Linked DNA regions of Homo sapiens. The protein of the gene in region 7 purifies or fractionates together with the protein of the main gene of each other region. This does not show direct contact. Each region holds a gene or a part of one and is shown on either strand. Other genes may lie near its edges. The genes, in order: USP48, SFXN1, EMC2, SCCPDH, PPP3CA, SUCLG2 and OGDH.

Evidence for each region.
Region 1: the proteins of OGDH (region 7) and USP48 fractionate together in Homo sapiens (co-fractionation; one large-scale study listed by BioGRID). This does not show direct contact.
Region 2: the proteins of OGDH (region 7) and SFXN1 fractionate together in Homo sapiens (co-fractionation; one large-scale study listed by BioGRID). This does not show direct contact.
Region 3: the proteins of OGDH (region 7) and EMC2 fractionate together in Homo sapiens (co-fractionation; one large-scale study listed by BioGRID). This does not show direct contact.
Region 4: the proteins of OGDH (region 7) and SCCPDH fractionate together in Homo sapiens (co-fractionation; one large-scale study listed by BioGRID). This does not show direct contact.
Region 5: the proteins of OGDH (region 7) and PPP3CA fractionate together in Homo sapiens (co-fractionation; one large-scale study listed by BioGRID). This does not show direct contact.
Region 6: the proteins of OGDH (region 7) and SUCLG2 purify together in Homo sapiens (affinity purification with mass spectrometry; 2 studies listed by BioGRID, with this or other methods). This does not show direct contact.

Annotation. Positions count from the first base shown.
Region 1 is NC_000001.11:21,755,650-21,759,149, reverse strand, and holds part of USP48 (ubiquitin carboxyl-terminal hydrolase 48), read left to right. Parts: intron 1-1,366; coding exon 1,367-1,487; intron 1,488-2,445; coding exon of another isoform or gene 2,446-2,447; coding exon 2,448-2,604; intron 2,605-3,500.
Region 2 is NC_000005.10:175,509,560-175,513,059, reverse strand, and holds part of SFXN1 (sideroflexin-1), read right to left. Parts: intron 2,952-3,500; coding exon 2,853-2,951; intron 1,610-2,852; coding exon 1,534-1,609; intron 950-1,533; coding exon 864-949; intron 1-863. UniProt on the Homo sapiens protein: Amino acid transporter importing serine, an essential substrate of the mitochondrial branch of the one-carbon pathway, into mitochondria.
Region 3 is NC_000008.11:108,450,124-108,453,623, reverse strand, and holds part of EMC2 (ER membrane protein complex subunit 2), read right to left. Parts: intron 3,224-3,500; coding exon of another isoform or gene 3,197-3,223; coding exon 3,132-3,196; intron 563-3,131; coding exon 477-562; intron 1-476. UniProt on the Homo sapiens protein: Part of the endoplasmic reticulum membrane protein complex (EMC) that enables the energy-independent insertion into endoplasmic reticulum membranes of newly synthesized membrane proteins.
Region 4 is NC_000001.11:246,737,909-246,741,408, forward strand, and holds part of SCCPDH (saccharopine dehydrogenase-like oxidoreductase), read left to right. Parts: intron 1-2,263; coding exon 2,264-2,393; intron 2,394-3,500.
Region 5 is NC_000004.12:101,026,223-101,029,526, forward strand, and holds part of PPP3CA (protein phosphatase 3 catalytic subunit alpha), read right to left. Parts: intron 2,974-3,304; coding exon 2,944-2,973; intron 1-2,943. UniProt on the Homo sapiens protein: Calcium-dependent, calmodulin-stimulated protein phosphatase which plays an essential role in the transduction of intracellular Ca(2+)-mediated signals. Many of the substrates contain a PxIxIT motif and/or a LxVP motif.
Region 6 is NC_000003.12:67,376,416-67,378,612, forward strand, and holds part of SUCLG2 (succinate--CoA ligase [GDP-forming] subunit beta, mitochondrial isoform 2 precursor), read right to left. Parts: intron 91-2,197; coding exon of another isoform or gene 47-90; exon of another isoform or gene 1-46. UniProt on the Homo sapiens protein: GTP-specific succinyl-CoA synthetase functions in the citric acid cycle (TCA), coupling the hydrolysis of succinyl-CoA to the synthesis of GTP and thus represents the only step of substrate-level phosphorylation in the TCA.
Region 7 is NC_000007.14:44,700,627-44,704,126, reverse strand, and holds part of OGDH (2-oxoglutarate dehydrogenase complex component E1 isoform 1 precursor), read right to left. Parts: intron 2,585-3,500; coding exon 2,512-2,584; intron 1-2,511. UniProt on the Homo sapiens protein: 2-oxoglutarate dehydrogenase (E1o) component of the 2-oxoglutarate dehydrogenase complex (OGDHC). Participates in the first step, rate limiting for the overall conversion of 2-oxoglutarate to succinyl-CoA and CO(2) catalyzed by the whole OGDHC.

The DNA.
Region 1 (3,500 bases), on a different chromosome or scaffold from region 7:
AGTGCAGTGGCACGATCTTGGCTCACTGCAACCTCCGCCTCCTGGGTTCAAGCAATTCTCCTGCATCAGCCTCCAGTCTTCAGCCTGTAGCTGGAGTTACAAACGTGTACCACCACACCTGGCTAATTTTTGTATTTCTAGTAGAGACAGGGTTTCACCATGTTGGCCAGGCTGGTCTCAAAACTCCTAACCTCAAGTGATCCTCCTGCCTTGGCCTCCCAAAGGGCTAGGATTACAGGCGTGAACCACCACGCCTAGCCAGTTGATTTATTTTTGTTTGTGTGCATGCGTGAAGTAGTGTGAGAAACAGTCACATGGTCCCAAATTGTTCATTATATGAAAAGGTACATTTCCTTTTCATTCATTCATTCATTCATTCATTCATTCATTCATTTTTTCCAAGACAGAGTCTTGCTCTGTCGCCCAGGCCAGAGTGCAGTGGTGTAATCTCGGCTCCCTGCAACCTCCGTGTCCTGGGTTCAAGGGATTCTTCTGCCACAACCTCCCAAGTAGCTGGGATTACAGGCCCGCACCGCCACGCCCGGCTAATTTTTGTATTTTTAGTAGAGACAGGGTTTCAGGCTGGTCTCGAACTCCTGACCTTGTTATCCGCCTGCCTCAGCCTCCCAAAGTGCTGGGATTGCAGGTGTGAGCCACTGTGTCCGGCCGAAAAGGTGTATTTTCTTTTAACCTTATTCCCACTCATGCTCTGTAGGTAACCAATTTCATTAGTCTCTTGTTTTTCCTTTCTGTATTTCTTTTTGTACAAAATGAGCAGAAATATGTACATGTATATTTTCCTTATATATTTCTTACACATAACAGTATACTAGAGATACTCCTTTGCATTTTGCTTTTTTTACTTAATAATGTGTCCTGGATTTATAAATTACCTTATATCTGTTCATAGATATCTTTTTCATGCTGTGTGTGTGTGTGTGTGTGTGTGTGTGTGTGTGTGTGTTTTACAGTTGCATAGTACTCTGCCATATAGATGTACCATATTGTCTATTTTTGGGCATTTGGGTGGCTTCCAATATTTTGCAATTAACAGACAGTGCTGTAATGAATAACCTTATGAGTGAGATTTTGCATTGTTGGAGGTATAGCCTAAGGAACAGTAAATCCTCAGAAATGAGATTGCTAGGTCTAAAGGTAGTTGTCTATGTAGTTTTGTTAGTGACTGCATTTCTACCAGCAGTATATGCATGCTTTCTTCTCCACACCCTCACAAACTGAGTGTCTTATACTTTCTCAGTTTTGCTAATTTATAGATGAGAAGTGGTATCTCATTTTAGTTTTAATTTGTTTGTCTCTCATGAAACTATGGTCTTTTAAAAATTAAAGGTTTTTTTTTTCCCCTTAGACGAAACTGCAAAGGAAATCCGAATTGCTTGGTTGGTATTGGTGAGCATATTTGGTTAGGAGAAATAGATGAAAATAGTTTTCATAACATCGATGATCCCAACTGTGAGAGGAGAAAAAAGGTAAACCATCATTTTTTAAGCGATTGCTATATGCTGTTTTTTGTTTTTGTTTTTGCTTTTGTTTTGGGCCTGTGATCAGAAAACTCTACTGATTTCAGGTAACCTGTGCAGCTTTAAGATAAGCAGTAGAACTTAAGACTCTAAGCCACTTGAATTGGAACACTTCTTAATGATATGCTTTAAAACAGGCAGCTGCGTAATTCAGTAAGCCTTTAAATAATAGTTTTAGTTTGAATGCTGATTCTATGTTTGCTTTAACATTGCATGTTTTATTTTGAAATCTTAACGCCTCTTTAAAGGAGATGGTAATTCAAGGGAACAAACTCATGATGATAGCACTTTGCTTTCTAGGGCTTGTATTTTATATATAATTTTGCTTTTTAAAAATATACATTAAATTTTCTAGACATAAATCTTAGCATTCACGAAATATCCAAGTTTGTTATATATAGATATTTTAATAAAATAATAATTCTTTGTAAGGTCAGGAATTCCCAACCTTATCTTTGGAAAAAGTTGCAGCCAGTTCCCTCTACCACCGCCAATCTTTAAAATCTCTAGAATATAAAGGAAGTTTTCTGCATAAGTTTTACTTTGTCATTCTGCTGAATGCTGGCAGTTTAGAAATACAGAAAACATAAAACCTATATACGCTTGTTCAAAACCGATCTTTTCTAGAATCCACTGTTCTAATTTTAGATTTAAGTGGCTGGAGAAGACGATATGCTAGAGATGAGCAGTGATGCCGTCCGAAGTCTTTTTCACTCCTGTGGTCAACCCAAAATGGGGCTTTCATGAAAATTATGCCCCACCTCCAGCCAAGAGAAACTTAAGGTGGCTATACCATGTTGGTTGTGACGGTCTTACACATTTTTAATCTGAAAATTTAAGAATAATGCTTAGAAATTGGTTGTTTAAAGGAAAATGGGTTTTATAATTATGAATTTTGTATTTTTGTAGAACTCATTTGTGGGCCTGACTAACCTTGGAGCCACTTGTTATGTCAACACATTTCTTCAAGTGTGGTTTCTCAACTTGGAGCTTCGGCAGGCACTCTACTTATGTCCAAGCACTTGTAGTGACTACATGCTGGGAGACGGCATCCAAGAAGAAAAAGGTGGGTGGAAAGGGGTGGGGGAGAGCTCTCTTCCTGAACATTTTTTTAAACTTTTTTTTTTTTTTTTTTTTGAGTCTTCCTCTGTTTCCCAAGCCAGAGTGAAGTGGCGCCATCTCGGTTCACTGCAACGTCTGCCTCCTGGGCTGAAGCGATTCTCCTGCCTCAGCCTCTTGAGAAGCTGGGATTACAGGCGCCCGCCACCACGCCTGGCTAGTTTTTGTATTTTTAGTAGAGACAGCGTTTCACTATGTTGGCCAGGCTAGTCTCGAACTCCTGACCTCAAGTGATGTGGCTGCCTCGGCCTTCCAAAGTGCTGCGACTACAGGTGTGAGCCACTGTGTCTAGCCTAAACTTATTTTATTATTATTATTATTATTTTTTTAAGACAGTTTCACACTTGTTGCCCACGCTCTAGTGCAATGGCACAATCTCGGTTCACCACAACCTCCGCCTCTCAGGTTCAAGCAATTCTCCTGCCTCAGCCTCCCGAGTAGCTGGGATTACAGGCGTGCACCACCACGCCCGGCTAATTTTGTATTTTTAGTAGAGACGGGGTTTCTCCATGTTGGTCAGGCTGGTCTTGAACTCCCGACCTCAGGTGATCCACCCGCCTCGGCTTCCCAGAGTGCTGGGATTACAGGTGTGAGCCACTGTGCCTGGCCTAAACTTATTTTTTTTATAGAGACAGTGTCTTGCTCTGTTGCCCAGGCTGGTCTTGAACTTCTGGCCTTAAGCAGTCCTCCTGTCTCGGTCTCCAAAAGTGCTGGATTACAGGCATGAACCATGGTGCCAGGCCTTGAATAGCTTTTACCAGCCTGCAAAACCTTTGCACCCCAAGGAGTAATATTTTATCTTTATTTTACAGATGGTATATTGACTTGCTGAAAGCCACAATT
Region 2 (3,500 bases), on a different chromosome or scaffold from region 7:
CAAAGTGCTGAGATTACAGGTGTGAGCCACTGCGCCCAGCAGACACATCTATTTTTAAATACCATGGATAAGTTTAATCCTCCTTTGATAGAAATAAAAGTAAAACAACACTAGTAAACTTTTAAAACAGGGTGTACCTTTTTCAGGAACAATATGATTCAAAGGGTGGACACACTAACTTCAATCTATGCTCATGTGCAAATTTGAGCAACTTTCCAAATGAGAAACAGATATAATACACAGCATTATTAAGTCAACAAACTTAATATGCTGACATGGAAACAGTCACTCGCACATGGCCCTACTGTATATTTATTAACTATATTTACTAACACTAAGTATAACTTCTACCGTTACCCCTGTTTTTCGTTATCCATTCCAAAATGCTTTTGTTGTTCTTTCTTCTCCTTTAATTTTTGCCAGTTCTACAACAATACTTCCAAAGATATAGAATAATGTACTTTAAGCCCCAAAAGAAAATTCTGGAGAAAAAAAAGGAATCTATTTTAGAGAATAAACTTTCTTTGGATAGACTTTGTCCAACCCAAGCACAACTCAATGTAAGCTTGAGATATATCTTTTAAACTTTTTATTATACGGACATAGAAAGACTATTCCAGCATCAGCCCCCTCCCCGCACTCCTCAGTCTGCTTCAATAATCAGTAACTCATCGCTAAGCTTGTTTTCTCAAGACGCCCATCCTCATCCCCAACCCCAGAGTATTTCAAAAGAAATCCAAGATCTCATATAATTTCACCTATACATATTAAAACAAGCATTTGAAAGTTTCAACAAAGCTAATTATTACAAGAGACTCTCCTGTCAAGCACATGTCCCTACTAAGAGTGCATATTCGTCTTACCTTTGCCTCATTAATGGAATATTAATGCAATTAGCAGCAGCTACGGCAGCAAAGGGAACAAAACGTCCTATCAGTGGTGAGACATGCTGCAGAGGAGAAAATTTCAAGAGCTTTATCTTATTTTTCCTGTACTAGTAAATGGAAATAACTTATTTCTTCTTGAAAACTCTGAAAAATGCAGAGTCCCATTTGCATAGAAACTCAGGCCAAGAATGCTTTCAAAACTTTTCCTAGCAGTATTTGTATATTTCCCACATGGGTGTGCTGGGACCATGCAAGCTTCTAAGGCCTTGTAGCTAAGTGTGGTTGCAGGAGTATGGGCTTTGGAGTGGGGAGAGAGAGAGAGAGAGAGAGATGCTCTTGCCTCTCTTCAGAGCTGTGGCCTGAGGCACACTGCCCTCTGCAATGCCTCTGGTGGGCTGTCAGGATGGGTGAACATTTAGCACTTCGTACACAGAGTCAGGCACAGACCACAGTCCTGGTAGGTGTTACTGGTGACAACTCTTCCCAAACTTATTGGAAGATATAACTAAAATATGCAGCTGAAGATAAGCACTATAACAAGAAAGCCATATGACTTGAACTAGTTTAAGAAATAATAGAGGGATTTAGAGCCAGGCAGGTGATAACAAATTAAACAGCTTTATTATGGAAATAAAAATCTGAGTACCTTGGTCAATGCATTGAGTCCTAGAGCTGTTGCTACGGCACCAGTTGTTGCAGAAACGTAAGCTGTTCCCAACTCACTGAAAAGAAAAAAGGATATCGTGTGGACGACGAGGGCATGTCAGGAAACTCTGGTGCAACATTATTTGAAGAAATAAAAGGGAAATATAAAAGAGCATGATTCAGAATGAAGAGTCTACAAAACAACATTCACTATCACTCCACAAGTAGGGGAATCTAGAGAAAAAGCAAGCAGATCCATAAACAATGGGATTCTTCACACGTATCTTGACTATAACTCCAAAAAAGTAGACATGTATTCTTTGAAGTGAGTTGGTTAAAATAAATAAATAAACATACAGACTTTGTATTCGTGAGAAGGAGGGGAGCTGTGTGTAGGAAGCTATGAATACAGGGGAATGCATATTGGGCTAAATGTTTGGGGCATATTTGCTTAAAAATATTTCTCAAAATATTAATATACACACTGAAAGCAAAAATGAAGTGCTGCCATTTAAAAAATGATATCTTAACTGTATAAAAATACTAAGTCTTATCATCCAAAAACTATAAAGCCCAAGCAATTCTCTCTTCTTTTAAAAGAAATTTTAATTGCAATAAACACCACTTGGCTGCAGATTTCAAGATCCTTTGTTCCATATAACAATAGTAGAAGAATATGTGTTGTCAAAAGCAATTTTAAGTGATAAAAAAGAGAAGCACTTTTCTTTCAAGTGTAATACAATTATGCTAACTAACGTTTTTGGTTAACTAATCTTGTGAGCCTATTTTTTTTTTAACAGGTGACAAAAAATTAAAACTCATTGCTTTCTTTTGGACTCCACAGATGAGCTATTTTAAAAACATATCAGATATAAAGTTCACACCGCCATGGTCTCCCCTTGATTTCTGCAGAGACCACACTTTGTCTCCTCTACTCTTAACGTTGGTGTCTGTCAACTCAGGCAGGGTAGATGGCGGAACAGCCTGTCACTTATCAGAGGCCAGGCCGGTGCTGCCTGCCATGTGTTCTACAGGGCCATGAGCTCCAGGGTGAGAAGGAGGTAACATCCTACCAGTACCTCCAAAGGCACGAGTAATGTCTGAGAAGGCAGGCTGGAAGAAGACTGTTTTCTTGATAGGGAGAGAGAAAATGAAACACTTTACTTTAAAAAAGAAAAAAGCTACAAAAAAGGATGCTACATAATATTCTGAACAATATAAAAATATGCACACATAGGCTTTTTTAAACAGGAGAGTATCACCACTTAATAAAATGAAGGTTGAAGAACTGCAGAGAGTGGTCAATTCTCGTAGCCTTACTTGACAGTGAGGGGTGCGTCTCCACTTCTGTTGGTGTAATTGACGACGGCATTGAAGGACTGGTTAATCCACTGCCAGAACAGCACAGCCGGCGTAGTCCTAAAACAGAGGCATCCGTCACATACCCACCATCACTGGGCCCAGCCGCGGCATGGAACAGAAAACGTGAACACCAGTAACCAGAGAGGAGACGTACTGGGGAAGGGAGAAAGCCATAAGGCCACACAGGCTTAGGATCTGTGTGCTGGGCAAGCTTTTATCCTCTGGGATCATCAGTTTCCTCATTCCGTAGATATAGATAACACCAAGCTCAGAGGGTTACTATGAGGATGAAGTAAGATAAAATTTGTAGAGAGCCTGGTACAGAATAGACATTCAATAAATGCCAGATCCCTTCTCTTGGGGAAAAAAGATACAATTTGTAGGCTAAGCGGTCCTGGGCCCTCCTAACAGCACTTGCAATGCTATATGTCTATGTCTACACATACACCTTTAATGTGCCTATATCTACACTTATACCTATACCTATATCTATATGAATGGAGTCAAAGGAGAATTTGCCTGCAGACTCTTTATTTTCCTTCTCCACTTCATTCTCTTTTGGGGCTAAGATTTAGAAAAAAAATTCAACCTCCTTTTGAACAACTA
Region 3 (3,500 bases), on a different chromosome or scaffold from region 7:
CTACCGAATATTGTTGAAACATTAGAAAAGAATTATTGGACAGGACAAAAGAATGACTAAGCATTAAAAAAAAAATGATAAACTGAACTTCATCAGAACTAAAAACTTCACAAGGCACCATTTAGAAAATAAAATATTCAAGCAAGAGAATAGGGAGAAATATTCACAGCACATATATCTGACAAAGCTTTTATCCAGAATATATAAAGACCTCCTACAAATCAGCAGTAAAAAAGGTAAAATAACGCAATTTTTTAAATGGGTAAAGACTAAAGAAGATACTTCAAAAAGAAGTTATTTGAATATCTAAGCAAACATGACAAGGTTTTCAACCTCATTAGTCATCAAAAAATGTAAATTAAAGCCATATTGAGACAGTATTCCACACACTCTAGAATGTCTGAATTAAAAAAAAAAAAATTAACACCACCATGATTAACAGGCTCCATGCCTGCCAGCTGATAAGATTTGGTTACCTTTCCATGGCTTCAAATCTCATGCCTGTTAATCGCTTGACTCTGTGACTGCCAGGGAACTGTCTTCTCAGCTCTTGAAGACAAAACTGAAAAAATAAGGGTTGAGTAGTAATTACATTATTTATACTAAATGGGCTACAATGGATGGCCTATATAGTCTTCAATGTGTCTTCTTGAATAATTTCATTAGTGTCATCTAATAACATGAAGTGAAATTAATCAGTAACAAATAATGGATTGAAAGAAGCACTATGACATTACAGTGAAGGCAACAATCAGTTCTCAGAAACTGATCATGCTCTTAACCAGGAAAATGAACAGATTATGAGAACCACTAATAACTCTTTAAGTACTAATATCATATTATTCCTCCTTAAAAACTACTTCTATAATGTGTCAGGCCCCTACTTAAATGACAACAGCGCCTGGCGTTTTCTTCCTAATTACAGCATAAGCATTCTCCTGGTAAGAACTAAGTTTTTTAGTAGTCATCTCAAGTTCCTAGCAAATAACATAAACACTGATTAATTTTGCCCTGTTGAAATTTTATATTAATCAGCCAACCTTTCTTATTTTTTTTTGAGATGGAGTCTTGCTCTGTTACCCAGGTTAGAATGCAGTGGCACGATCCTGGCTCACTGCAAACTCCACCTCCTGGGTTCAAGCGATTCTCCTGCCTCGGCCTCCCAAGTAGCTCGGACTACAGGCGCCTGTCACCACACCCAGCTCATTTTTGTATTTTTAGTAGAGACGGGGTTTCAACATGTTGGCCAGCCTGGTCGCGAACTCCTGACCTCAGGTGATCCGCCTGCCTTGGCCTCCCAAACTGCTGGGATTACAGGCATGAGCCACCGCACCCAGCCAATCAATCATCCTTTCAATCAACATATCCTGATTTGGGGTCAGAAAATACAGACATTAAACGGATGGAATACCAATTTCTTTGAACAAGTATCCATAATTGACTCATCAACTTGACTAAATAAATAATCAAATATTTACTGAGTATCTACATTCTCAGCAACATATGAAGGATTCAAAGTTTTGGAAGTCCTAGAAATGTTAAAGATGATACAAATAGTCCACTGAAGCATATTAATGCATGTGTGACCAAAACAATGCCATTAACTACTGATGAAACTATTAACTGGTAATAAAATAAGTTTTAATATGAATTGGAAATACAGCTTCAAAGTTTGTGGCTGAAATTTGCCACACTAAGAAAAATATTCAAGTTAATCAAAAGTGAAGATATGTTCATTTATTTCTTTGATATCAAGCAAAATCATATTACTTGGTCAGTCAAGCAAGCTAACTGTATAAATAATCTTAACCATTATAAAGTTACTGTTTAATTGTGTATACTGCTTTATTAATCAATAGTGTTATCTAATTTGACTTCCTACTTTATCAAGTGATATTTGGCTATTTCAAAAAAAATAAAAATAAAAACCTCTCTCAAGACATAAAACGGTCACCTCTATGAATATTCAAAAGACTATGTCTCATAGGTTCTGAAGGTAATCCAACAAAGGTTTTGTGGAATGTTTTCATCACTAACAGCTCCACTAGAATTACATGTATAGCCAACCCAACCTTGAAAAGGACAATACTAATTCAGATGTGAATTTTTTTCAGGTATTTCAATTTTTTGTTTTTGCATATTTTCTTTCAGTTTAAATACAGAGGCAGCATGAAGCGGTACTTAAGAATTCAAGATGATAGGAACAACATTAACAGATGCCTCTGCTTTCTGATTTATAAAATAAATATAATAATAACATCAAACACAAATCAAATCAAGAAATAATTATGAAGGCTCAATAAAATCATGATGTAAAGCATTTAGCTTCGTTCCTAGCATGAGTCCAAAAACATAGCTACCATTACAGTGTTATTTTAAAAGCAGTATTAGGTTTGTTTGATTTTTTTCTTTTTTTTTTTTGAGACAGAGTCTCGCTCTGTTGCCCAGGCTGGAGTGCAGTGGCACAATCTCAGCTCACTGCAATCTCTGCCTTCCAGGTTCAAGCGATCCTCCTGCCTCAGCCCCCAGAGTAGCTGGGACTAGAGGCACGCTCCACCACGCCTGGCTGATTTTTTGTATCTTTACTAGAGACGGGGTTTCACCACGTTGGCCAGGCTGGTCTCGAACTCCTGACCTCAGGTGGTCTGCCTGCCTCGGCCTCCCAAAGTGCTGGGATTACAGGTGTGAGCCACCTTGCCTGGCCAAACATTATTAGTATTTTATGTTATGTTCTATACGTCGGGATTTTCTTATGTCAGATATGTTTATAATATTGTGTAACAGTATTGAACATTACATTCTGTGAAAGTCATTCAATAACACAAAATACAAAATTGTTTTAAACTTTCTTATTTTAAACTCTATAAAATAGGATAAGTCACTTACTAAGCAGATAAATTTCAGTAACTAAATCTTTACAGTAAAACTGGGATACTAAACAGCTACTTCTCAGGACTAATAAAAAGATATAAGATACTTTGTCCTAAAATATCTAGTTAGTTCCACTTACTGTTCAGAGTAGCACTCAAAACTAGCTATTGAAAGCATTCCATATAAGCCATACATTAAGTCTTAACTACGGTATACAATTGATGAAGCAAATTAAATATATACTTCATTTAAATACCTACCAATGCCAAGTCATCCCGACCATAGTCTAGTGCTGCAATCATCACCTGTTCATATATGATCCAAACTAGATACACATAAAGGGGGAAAAAAACTGAATTTAATATTAAAACAAACCCAAATGGAAATTAATGAATTCTAGTTTCTGATATTTCTAGAGAACATTACTTATAACTGAAAACTGATTTATTGTATTATCTCTGAAACTAAGAATGCATTCTTACATGTTTCAGCAGTGTAAAATATGTTAATGTAAGGTTAAAATCTCCAATTATTTAATAGTTTTACTGTTCTAAAAGAGTCCATACACAATACATTTTGGCCAGACATTTGGCAGCCCTGTGAGCTTTAAAACAAAATGCCTATTTGAT
Region 4 (3,500 bases), on a different chromosome or scaffold from region 7:
TAAGGAGTTGGGCACGTTGGCTCATACCTGTAATCTCAGCACTCTGGGAAGCCAAAGTGGGTGGATCACTTGAGGCCAGGAGTTTGAGGCCAGCCTGGCCAACATGGCGAAACCCCATCTCTACTAAAAATACAAAAATCAGCCAAGCATGGTGGTGCACGTCTGCAATCCCAGCTACTCAGAAGGCTGAGGCATGAGAATCACTTGAACCCAGGAGTTGGAGGTTGCAGTAAGCCAAGATTGCGCCACTGCACTCCAGCCTGGGCAACAGGGTCGGATCCTGTCTCAAAACAACAACAACAAACCTATTAAAGAACCAGAGGGCTGGGTGCGGTGGCTCACACCTGTAATCCCAGTGCTTTGGGAGGCCGAGGCAGGCGGATCACGAGGTCAAGAGATCGAGACCATCTTGGCCAACATGGTGAAACCCCATCTCTATTAAAAATACAAAAGTTAGCTGGGCGTGGTGGTGCACGCCTGTAGTCCCAGCTACTTGGGAGGCTGAGGCAAGAGAATCGCTTGAACCTGGGAGTCGGAGGTTGCAATGAGCCAAGATCATGCCACTGCACTCCAGCCTGGCGACAGAGTGGGACTCCGTCTCAAAAAAAAAAAACCCAGAGTATTTAAAGAACTTTTACAAGACAATAATAGAAATAAAGACAATTTATTTTAAAAATGGGCAGGGGATGTAATCCTAGCACTTTGGGAGGCCGAGGCACGTGGATCACCTGAGGTCAGGAGTTTGAGACCAGCCTGACCAACATGGAGAAACCCTGTCTCCACTAAAAATAGAAAATTAGCTGGGCGTGGTGGCAGGTGCTGTAAACCCAGCTACTCGGGAAGCTGAGGCAGCAGAATCGCTTGAACCCGCGAGGTGGAGGTTGCAGTGAGCCGAGTCTGCACCATCGCACTCCAGCCCGGGCAACAGTGCGAGACTCCGTCTCAAAACAAAACAAAACCAAAAAGGCAGGGATGAGAAGAGACAAATCTTCTTTGTGGAAGAATTCCAAATGATTTATGTAGCTTCTCCACATTTATGTGCAAGCAGCTGTGTGTGTGACTGAGTGTGTTAATGTGTTTGTATGTGTGTGACTATGTTAGTGTGACTTAATGTGTTTGTGTGTGCATGAGCAAGTGTGTGTGTGTGATTGTGTTCGTGTGTGTTTGTGTATGTGCATGAATGGGTGTGTGTGGTGTGTGTTTGTGTCTGGTATGTGCTTGAACAGGTGTGATTGTGTTTGTGTGTCACCTTCTGGGAGAGGGAGCATAAATTGACAGTGGAGAAACCTGGTGAACACTGCCTCAGCCAGGTGTTCAAGTCAGCATTAACCCTGGTAAATCATGTTGACAGTGCGTAGCCCCGATGTGATATGATATGATAAGAATAGCACTTTACCCCTGTGGTCTCTTTCCAAAACTCATAATAATAATGAGAAAAGCATGAGACAAATTCCAGTAGAGGGGCACTCTACAAAATGCCTGACCAGTACTCCTCAAAACCATCAAGGTCATCAGAGACAAGGAAAGTGTGAGAAACCGTCGCAGCCAAAAGAAGCCGAAGGAGACGTAACAACCGAATGTAATCCTGGATGGGATCCTGGAGCAGAAAAAGGGGTTCAGTTAAAACTAAGGGAATCAGAATGAACTGTGAACTTTAGTGAATTAAATCATATATGTCAGTACTGGTTCATTAATTGTAACCACTGTTCATGTAAAAGATGTTAAAAATAGAGAAAACTGGGTTTCAGAGTACTTGGGAACTCTCTACTATTCAATTTTTCTGTAAATCTTAAACTGTTTTTAAAAAGGAATTTCTAAAAACAGGCAGAAGAGCAGAGCAGACATTATTCCCCTGTGCCCTCTGCCACCATCTACTTTCCTGCTCTCTGTCTGTACGTGTGCGGAGCTTTATGTCTGTGATGATGTTCATCTGGGTAATGCTGTTTGGGGTCATTTTTTTTTTGCTTTCTATTTTTTATATTTTAATATTTTATAATAGGCATTACTTTTATATTTAAAAGTCATTCTAAAAAAATTAAGTGTCATACAGTCAGACGAGCACAACTTCTGTACCACCTGGTGTGCAGTAGGCGCTGTATTTGCCGAATAAGTGGAAAATATTTTGACAGTTAATGTTTTGCTGCAGAGCCACACTGCTTAGCATTTTCAAAGTTTGGTTGCTTTGTTTTTAAAGATAAATTATTTAATACTGGTCTACATCTTTCTGCATAACTAATTAAAATTCTTATCCTGGATTTTTTAGTTTCTGGAACTAATGCAACTGAAGTATCATGAGAAAGCTGCAGACAAAGGGGTTTATATCATTGGAAGCAGCGGCTTTGACTCCATTCCAGCAGATCTGGGAGTAATATATACCAGAAATAAAATGAATGGTAATTATTGATCAATAAGCAATAATGGAATTTAACAGTACCGTGCAAAGGCTTCATGTTTCTAACTGTGGTGAACTAAAATCTAGTTGAAAAAAGAAACATAGCCATAAATGGGTAATATTAAACACATGTTTTGTTTTTAATATAGCTGCACTTTTAATAAAATGCTATTGAGACTATTGTTGAGACATGGATAATACTGTATTTTACAGTGATATATTATTGTCTCAGTATAGTTTGGGCTGTAAAATTTCTGGAAAACAACTTTGGCAACGTTATAAATTCAAACTTGCTTTGTTTAGGAATCAGCACATTTTAAAGCATAATTTGTATATTATAGTTAAAAGGTTTTAAATTTTTAACCGTCAAAGCTAGAAAGTATTGAACACAGAATTGGAGACACTTATTTAAGAATGGAGAAAATAATGTTACGATAAAACATTTGAAGTTACTGATGTTTTGCATATTTAAGAGTGTCTGGTTTAGAAAATTACCTGAGCAGGGTGTGGTGGCTTACACCCATAATCTTAGCTACTTGGGAGGTTGAGGCAGCAGGATCTCTCGAGGCCAAGAGTTCAGGACCAGCCTGGGCAACATAGTAAGACTCGTCCCTAAGAAATAAAAAAAAATTAGCCAGGTGTGGTGGTGCACACCTGTAGTCAGTCCCAGCTCCTCAGGAGGCTGAGGTAGGAGGATCACTTGAACCCAGGAGTTTGAGGCTTTAGTAAGCTATGATTGCACCACTGCACTCTAGCCTGGGTTACAGAGTGAGACCTTGTCTCTTAGAAAAAAGCAAAAAAACAAAAAAACAAAAACAAAAAACAAAACTGAAACAGGTAACTTCAGTACCATATAAAGTGTTCTAGACTTAAAAAATTGGAAAATGTTCCAGCATATATTAAAAAGTTAGCATAACTATGAAACCAAAGTCCAACAAAGATAGCACACACACACACAAACTACAAATCTTGCTTATGAAATTAAAAGTAAAAAGAAAATACTATATAAAATTTTAATCCAGTGCCATTTTAAAAAGTTTTTTAAGAGACAGGATCTTGCTCTGCCGTAGCTCACCGTAACGAATGCCTGGGCTCAGGCAGTGCTCCC
Region 5 (3,304 bases), on a different chromosome or scaffold from region 7:
CATACTCGGAAGTAACCAAAGGTTTGAAAACAGCCAATGTCTCTTGCCAACCAAAATGTCCTCTTGAAGTTATTAAGATGTAAGCATTTCTCCTGTCTTCATGAAAGTTTAGCTCAAAGAAATCCAAAGTGGACACATAAAGAGGAAAGCTGCTTTCAGGGACAAGCCTCTAGAACCAGCATCAACTGGCCACATCATAAGCATCAAACACCTTAACCTAGACAGGCTGCAGCATGTCCCTCTTTGTATTCCTCCATTGTACTAGGTAATGGCAAATTCAGTGGAATCAGTATGTTTGCTATACCTAAAAACCTAGCAAAGGGCTTAAAGCAGGAGCTAAAAGGAGCTAGAAAAGGAATTAACCGGGGCATTTCCATGCCATCTCAGAATCCCAGAAAGAACTTCTTGACAAGCAACTCAATGATGACATGAAAAAAAAAGAAATTATAAACTCCTGTCTCCACTTAACTTTGGAAGCATGTGGAGTGAGTGACAAGGTAAGAGAAACTAAAAAAAAAAATCAAGATAAGGTCACTAGGTAGAAATGTATCGTCTGCCCTTCAGCAGTGAACAGGTCAAACTGATGTTCATCTGGTATCCATTACTGCCTAAATGAAAGAAAAACTCAGTAGATCAATGTAGATGTAAGTGATGGTTAAATAATAACAAGGAAAAAAATGCCTTTCACAATATTTAGCAAAAATGCATTGAACTGGTTTTGGTCCTATTCAATTAAAACATGGAATTCTCAAAGTGGGAATGATATTTGATTTTTTTAAAAAGTAATCTTTGGTGTGCTACAGCGATAGGTAAGGCATTTGTACAAAAAACTTAATGATTTCTTCAGTGAGTACACCAACTGGTGAGCTGCAAATAAAACACATAAATGGGGAACCAATGACATCAGTTTGCTTTACTCCCTGTGAAGTGCAAGCCAGATATTTCAGGGCCAATCACCAATGCTCAATTGGGCTGCATCACCATGGCTGATTAAGGATAATTTCATGGTACCTTTATCCTCCCAACCTTATTTGGGGGGGAAAAAAAAAAAAAGGAAAGCAGTTTCAAGCTGAAACTTTACCAGCCACTCCTACACAAATGTGCAGTGCCTTTTATTAGTATGGATGAGATTCCTAAAAGATATACACAGTTGTTTCAATACTCATTAAAAGATGAGAAATAGTTTTTCCCCCCTCTGCATTTTAAAGGTTAGCATAATGGTGATTAGTCAACTGTGAGAGGAATAAGATGCGAAAATGGGGAAAGACCAAGGCCCAAAGCAAAGCTTGTTAATTCTTCTCTAATTTAGTAATAAATTGCAAAATAATAGAGCTGTCTAATGAGCACCCACCCTGAAAACTAACTCAATTATTTTGAAATACAAAAGAATAGCATGAAGTGGTACTCTACTGTCTTTTTTAGACTACTGTGAATATAATTTCATCATAATTAACAGGTATAAAAGTTTGTCATCATTATCATTTATGAAATGATTTAATTAATTTAAATGGTAAAAGTGAAATTTCTAGGTTTTAAAAGCCAATAGGGTGGGAGTGTTAAAAATGTAGCTAGAACAATGGATACTTCTGGAATGGGGCTCCATTTCTAATCATTTTTGTCATCCTGGTATGGAAGAATGTGCTCTGCTGTAGTTGCTGGTCAGACAATGGGTATTAGCAATTTACATTGGTAGTATACTTAACACAACACAGAGTCACAGAAACCACAGAAAACAGCCAAACTATCAACAAGAATGCACACTGCAGATTAGAATTTGCCAAGAGGAATAGAGAATTCCCACATAAATAGCAGTTTATTCACTGCTATTTAGGAAGCAGTTGTATTTTCTCTTACAGTGCTATTGTTTCCCCTACCATATCCAAATCATGTACAAATTGGAAGAGTCTAAAGTGGCACTTTTTGTATCACACCAAAGGACCATATGCACATAATTTTGAGAAAAACAAAAAAGTTACCTTGCAAGAACAAAATACAACTGAAGAATTTTGTTTTAAAGGGGAACTTCAAATTATTATTTTTGAAATTTCCAAAGGATATGGTATGTATAATAAATATTAAAAACTATTTTGATATGCAGTTCTCTTATAACTATATATTTAAACAACAGTCAAGTAAAAAGCAAATACTAAAGGTTCGACTCTACTGTCCTTGAGCAGTGCTAGAACACAGCTGGAGATGGACACTTCTTGATGTCCCCTGCAGCTCCTAGTACAGTGCCTGGCACAAAGCAGACACTCAGTACACATTCATCAATTGAGTGCTACTTGATACTCGCTATTCTTGTTATCGGCCACTTCCACAGCCACTAGATGCTTTTGAACTTTTTATAATATTTTGCTGGTGTTAATTCTCATACAAATACCAGTAGGTTACAATTTGATTTAAGATTACCAGAACTGTTCATCTTATATACAGCTGTCTCATGTTGGAATATTTTTTAGAGATACAAATTAATGTTGAACTACAACAAAGCACTATTTAAATGAACATTTTTTTCCTTTGGCTACAAACTTCTGAAGACTAGAATTAAGATGGCTATTTTTATTCTCTTCAGTGCTGCCTGAAAGTGATTTGAGGGAGGGACATGGTTCAGCTCAAAGATTATTGTTTTATAAGCTACTGGTCAAAACAGCTGCCATAACCCCCACCCCACATCATTCAAAATATATAATCCTTTTGTTTTCTGTGATTATAGTATTCATCATATACAAAAGTCAAACATAGCTTTAAGGGAAAGAAACAAACAAACAAACCATAGAAGGACATTTTCCCCTTTAAAGCAAGAACATTTTGGTTAATACTGAGCCACAACTGTTAGCTCAACACCCACACACTCTGTACAAGCTACAGCAAAAAAATGAATACACCCAGCAGAGCCCTTATCTGTTGCAGGTACAACAGAAAGGGGACTGGCCAATTTACCTTCATCAGCCTCAATAGCCTCAACAGTAGCTGAAGAGAAGAAAGGGGGTGCAAAATGAATGAGAAAAATGAGCAGAGGATTTTTTAACTCTAAGAACAAATCAGTGACCATCAAAGGAGCTAAGAGAACTAATGTTCCTGTAAGTGCTAGATTCTGGCACAGACAACAAAACAGAAATGCTAAAAAAAAAAAAAAAAAAAAAAAAAGAAAAAAAATGCCACAGAAATTATAAATTTAATTTATGAGCTGGGTACGCCTATCTGAATTAAATGTTTTGGTTTTTGCCCACTAAATAAATAACAAACAACCCTTTAGGAAAACACTTAGGAAAATTTCTTTTACATGGACTGAATTATAAGA
Region 6 (2,197 bases), on a different chromosome or scaffold from region 7:
ATCTTCTGGCCAAGTCACTTCATTCAAAGGTGTGCTTGGGGACTATTTAACATGAGAACTGCTTTTCTGCCATTTTAGAGTGAACAACTCCTGTAGGAGAAATGTAATAGAATTTAAGTGTCTAATGAAATATCTCATCCTACATCATTTCCTGTGCTTTTATCTAGTTGGCAAGACAGAGCCTATTTATAAACAAAGACCTTGAAATATAGGCCTTGGAGAACTTGCCTTACCACAAAGAGTGCAGATAAAAAGAGGCACTGGGTCAGCACATTTCATATAAAGAGGCAAATGCTGGATTAAATAGAAATGGGTGGATTGAAAAGATGATGCAGCACTGATTCCCCTGGGACCCTGGGTCTACCCAAGCAGCAGTGAAGATGGCCGCTTGGCACTGTGTCTTCACCTTAAGGCTCACCTACTCCTGTTTTTACAGAGGAAGCTGGTGAAAGTCCTCTCTGGAAGGTGAAAGCATAAAATGTGGGAAGCTGCTACCTAAAATCTCCATGCTGGCTCTGCCATGTACTTGTTATGTAGTTTTGGGTAAATCGTTTAACTTCTTTGAGCCTTAACTTTTGTTTCCATACAGAGCACTATCATCCTCGTAATCTTCCCAAGAACTAATATCATTAAGTGCTTATGTATGCCAGGCACAGTGCTAAGTAACTTATACACAGCATATGAAATCTTTACAAAAACTATGAGTAGTCCTATTGTTCCTATTTTACAGATAAGGCAACTGAGGCACAGAGAAGTTAAATAACTTTTCCATGGTCACAGAGGCGGTAAGTGTCAGAGATGGGACTTGAACTGTTCTCTGTAATTATAAACGCTGCATGTTCTAAAGATATGCTAGTCTGCTTACCTACTTGAAAAATGAGGACAGTATAGCTGATGGTATAGATTGTGATGAGAAGCAAATGAAATGAGTGTAAAAGCATTTTTGTAAATGGTGCAGTATCTGTGGCAGGCCTGGCTGGCTTTGCACCACAGACTCCTGCTCCTCTTCTGCAGTAGAGTGCTATTGCTGGAAAGCAGCTGCCCAGCCAGAAACTACATTTCCCAGGCCCCCCTGCATCTCGAAGGGGACATGTGACTGAGTTCAGGCCAAAGGAATGTCACATGGCCATGACAATCTCCAAAGGGACTCTTCACACTCGGTTTTCCTTGTCTGCTTTCTGGAGTGTTCCTAGCTGGGGCAGCCCTGGAAGTCACCTTTTTGGTTCTGGTTGTGTTTTGTCTTGCTTTTTGTTTTTGAGATAGGCTCTCGCTGTGTCACCCAAGATGGAGTGCAGTGGTGTGATCTCAGCTCACTGCAGCCTCAGCCTCCGGTGCCCAAGTGATCCTTCTACCTCAGCCTCCCAAGTAGCTGAGACTAAAGGCACACATCACCACGCCCAGCTATTTTTTGTATTTTTTGTAGAGATGGGGTTTTTCCACATTGCCCAGGCTGGTCCTGAACTCCTAAACTCAAGGACTCCATCTGCCGTGGCCTCCCAAAATGCTGGGATTACAGGCATGAGCCCTTGCACCCAGCCAAATCACTTCTTGAAGATGGCAATGACTCCTTCAGCCTGGATACTTTAATAACTCTCTGGAGCCAAGCATCTTACCCACTCACCCTCTTAGACCTTATGGGAATGAGAAAGACCCTTCTATAATGTTAAGACTCTGAAATTTCTGCATTTTTCTGTTGTTACAGGAGCTAGCATTATTTTGACTAACATATGACTTTGTAAATGCTGTGGAAGGCAGCTTCTAAAATGGTTTTCAAAGATCAATCACTCTTGCCTCCTGGTAGTCACATCTTTGTAGAATCCGTCCCCCTTGAGTATGATCTGGACCCACAGCCTTACTTCTAATAGATAAGAACATGGCAAAAGTGATGGAGTGTCACTTCTGAGACTAGGTTACAAAAGCCTGTGGCTTCAGTCTTGCTCCCTTTAACTCTTTTTTCACTCTGATGAAGCAAACTACCCTGCTATGAGCTGCCCTCTGGAGAGACTCACCTGGGCAAGGAACTGAGGGCAAACTCTGGCCAACGGCTGATGAGGAACTGAGGCTCTGGGTCTAATAGCCAAGGAGGAAGTGCATCTGGCCAAGAACCATATAAGGGATCTTGGAAGCAAATTCTTCCCTAGTCAAGCCTTGAGATCACTACAGCTCGGCTGACACTGTGATTGCAGCCTTGTGAGAG
Region 7 (3,500 bases):
TTCCTCAAAAAACTAAAAATAGAATTACCATATGGTCCAGCAATTCCACTTCTGAGTACATATTCAAAAGAACTGAAAGCAGGGACTCAAAGAAATATTTGTACACCAATGTTCATAGCAGCTCCTCTAATCATAATAGCTGAAACATGGAAGCAACCCAAGTGTCCATCGACAGATGAATGGATGAGCAAAATGTGGCATACACATATAATGGAGTATTATTCAGTCTTTTTTTTTTTTTGAGACGGAGTTTCGCTCTTGTTGTCCAGGCTGGAGTGCAACGGCGTGATCTTGGCTCACCACAACCTCTGCCTCCCATGTTCAAGTGATTCTCCTGCCTCAGCCTCCTGAGTAGCTGGGATTACAGGTATGCGCCACCACCCCCGGCTAGTTTATTTATTTATTTTTTTTGAGACGGAGTCTCTGTCACCCAGGCTGGAATGCAGTGGCGCAATCTTGGCTCACTGCAACCTCTGCCTCCCAGGTTCAAGCAATTCTCCTGCCTCAGCATCCTGAGTAGCTGGGATTACGGGTGCGCGCCACCATGCCCAGCTAATTTTTGTATTTTTCGTAGAGATGGGGTTTCATCATATTGGTCAAGCTGGTCTCAAATTCGTGACCTCAAGTGATCGACCTGCCTCAGCCTCCCAAAGTGCTGAGATTACAGGTGTAAGCCACTGGGCCCAGCCTATTCAGTCTTTTTTGTTTTGTTTTGTTTTGAGATGGAGTCCTACTCTGTTGCCCAGGCTGTAGTGCAGTGGTGCAATCTCAGCTCACTGCAACCTCTGCCTCCCGGGTTCAAGCAATTCTCCTGCCTTAGCCTCCAGAGTAGCAGGGCGTGCACCACCACACCCTGCTAATTTTTGTATTTTTAATAGAGACGGGGTTTCACCCTGTTGGCCAGGCTCGTCTCAAACTTGTGACCTCAAGTGATCCACCTGCCTCGAACTCCCAAAGTGCTGGGATTATAGGCATGAGCCACCATGCCTGGCTATTCAGTCTTAAAAAAAAAGAAATTCTGACACATGCTACACAACATGGATGGACCTCGCAGACATTATACTAAATGAAACAAGCCAGTCGCAAGGGACAAAGACTGTATGATTTCACTTATGAGTTCCATAGAGTAGTCAAATTTATAGAGGCAGTAACACACTGAACTGGATACTTAAAAATGGTCAAAATGGTAAATTTTATGTTGTGTATTTTACCATAATAAAAAAAGACTGGGGGCTGGGCATGGTGGCTCATGCCTGTAATCCCAGCACTTTAGGAGGCCAAGATGGGTGGATCATGAGGTCAGGAGATTGACACCATCCTGGCTAACACGGTGAAACCCCGTCTCTACTAAAAATACAAAAACAAAATTAGCCAGGCGTGGTGGCGGGCGCCTGCAGTCCCAGCTACTTGGGAGGCTGAGGTGGGAGAATGGCGTGAACCCGGGAGGTGGAGCTTGCAGTGAGTCGAGATTGTGCCACCACACTCCAGCCTGAGCGATAGAGCGAGACTCCGTCTCAAAAATAAATAAATAAATAAATAAATAAAATTAAAAATAAAAAAAGATTGGGAAAAAACCCCCAAAAAACAAGGGGCTCACCTTGATTGAAGACTAAAGGGGGTTTGGTGACTGGTGGGATGCAGGCTTCCTGGCCTGGTGACCCCTGGTGGGTGGTAAAGGCTGTGTCAACATCCTGCACTCCACTGTCCCTATAGAAATCTCAATGTTATGGGTCTCCCTTCACACAAGTGCAGCTGGCATGTGACTTGGCAGGACCTGCCGTCCAGTGTTTTTTTCTCTGTCCTGAAGGGCTTGCTTTGGGGCTGGGCCTCTGAGCCAGTGGTGAGCTGCCACTCACCTGCTGAAGGAGGCCGCAGGCAGCGGCACTAACCCTCAATCTTGGACATACTTAATTGCCTCTAGTGGAGTCCTTGGGGGCATTTGCAGGTGAGAGGCAACAGCTCCTGGGCTGCATGTTAAGACATGTCATTTGACCAACGTGAATGTAAGCTGTGACCTCCCTCATCTGGTATCATGGGACTTTTTTTTTTTTTTTTGTGCCGGAGTTTTGCTCTTATTGCCCAGGCTGGAGTGCAATGGCGTGATAGCAGCTCACTGCAACGTCCACCTCCTGGGTTCAAGCAATTCTCCTGCCTCAGCCTCCTGAGTAGCTGGGATTACAGACATGTGGCACTACGCCTGGCTAATTTTGTATTTTTAGTGGAGATGGCGTTTCTCCATGTTGGTCAGGCTAGTCTCGAACTCCCGACCTCAGGTGATCTGCCCTCGAACTCCTGACCTCAGATGATCTGCCTGCCTCGGCCTCCCAAAGTGCTGGGATTACAGGCGTGAGCCACTGTGCCCAGCCATGTATCACGGGTCTTTACAACCAAAAATCTGGCAAGAGCCAGTGAGAATCACAAATGTCAGTCCCATGAGCTGTAAAAGAGCAGCAGCAAAGAAGCCCCAAACATAGCTTCCCCCAAGGAAATGCCCATCTCCCTCACACCCACCTGGAAGCATCTCATCAAAGCTGGATCTGGCCTCGGGGTGGCGCAACAGGGATTTGGGGGTGAAGATAATTAACTGAAATACAGAACAATAGGCTCGTGAAGGATCAGATTCTGAAGATTCCAGAAGGAAGGTCAAAAGCAAGGCTACCCAAGCCTTGACCTTCAGGCCATGAAACACACCTGCCCTCCCACTCAACAGGAGCCTCAGGTCAGAAGAGGCAGAGAAGGAGGGAAAAGGAAAGATGACCAATTTCCCTGCTGTTCACCTCCCCTAGCTGGGTATCCACTCCTGGCAGGGCCCATCCCAGCCTGCTCGGACTCCCAATACTCCCTTCCCTGCTTCTCTGTACCTAGGAAAGAGCTCTGACCCTCTCCTTGGCAGTCTCAGAGCAAATGCACCCAAAGCCCATGTAAGGCTGTGACATGGCCCAGCACCAAGAAGCACCAGGGCTGTCCTGCCCTGTGGGCCCTTGGACTGCTGGGGACACTCCGAGCTGCAAGCCTCCACCCCATACTCCCACCCCCGCGGTATCCCAGGGCAGCAGGGCACTCCCTCGCTGTCCCCCACACTCCTTCCTTTTTTTTGTTTTTTGAGACGGAGTCTCGCTCTGTTGCCCAGGCTGGAGTGCAGTGGTGCGATCTCGGCTCACTGCCAGCTCCGCCTCCCGGGTTCACGCTATTCTCCTATTCTCCTGCCTCAGCCTCCTAAGTAGCTGGGACTGCAAGTGCCCGCTGTCATGCCCGGCTAATTTTTTTGTATTTTTTTTGGTAGAGACGGGGTTTCACTGTGCTAGCCAGGATGGTCTCCATCTCCTGACCTCATGATCCACCTGCCTCGGCCTCACAAAGTGCTGGGATTACAGGCGTGAGCCACCTCGCCCGGCCTCCTTCCTTTTTATGAATCACTTCTCCAACGTATCCCTCCACTCAACTTCTACTCACCCTTCAACACCCAGCTCAGGAGCCGCTCCCTGGGGACCCTGCACTCC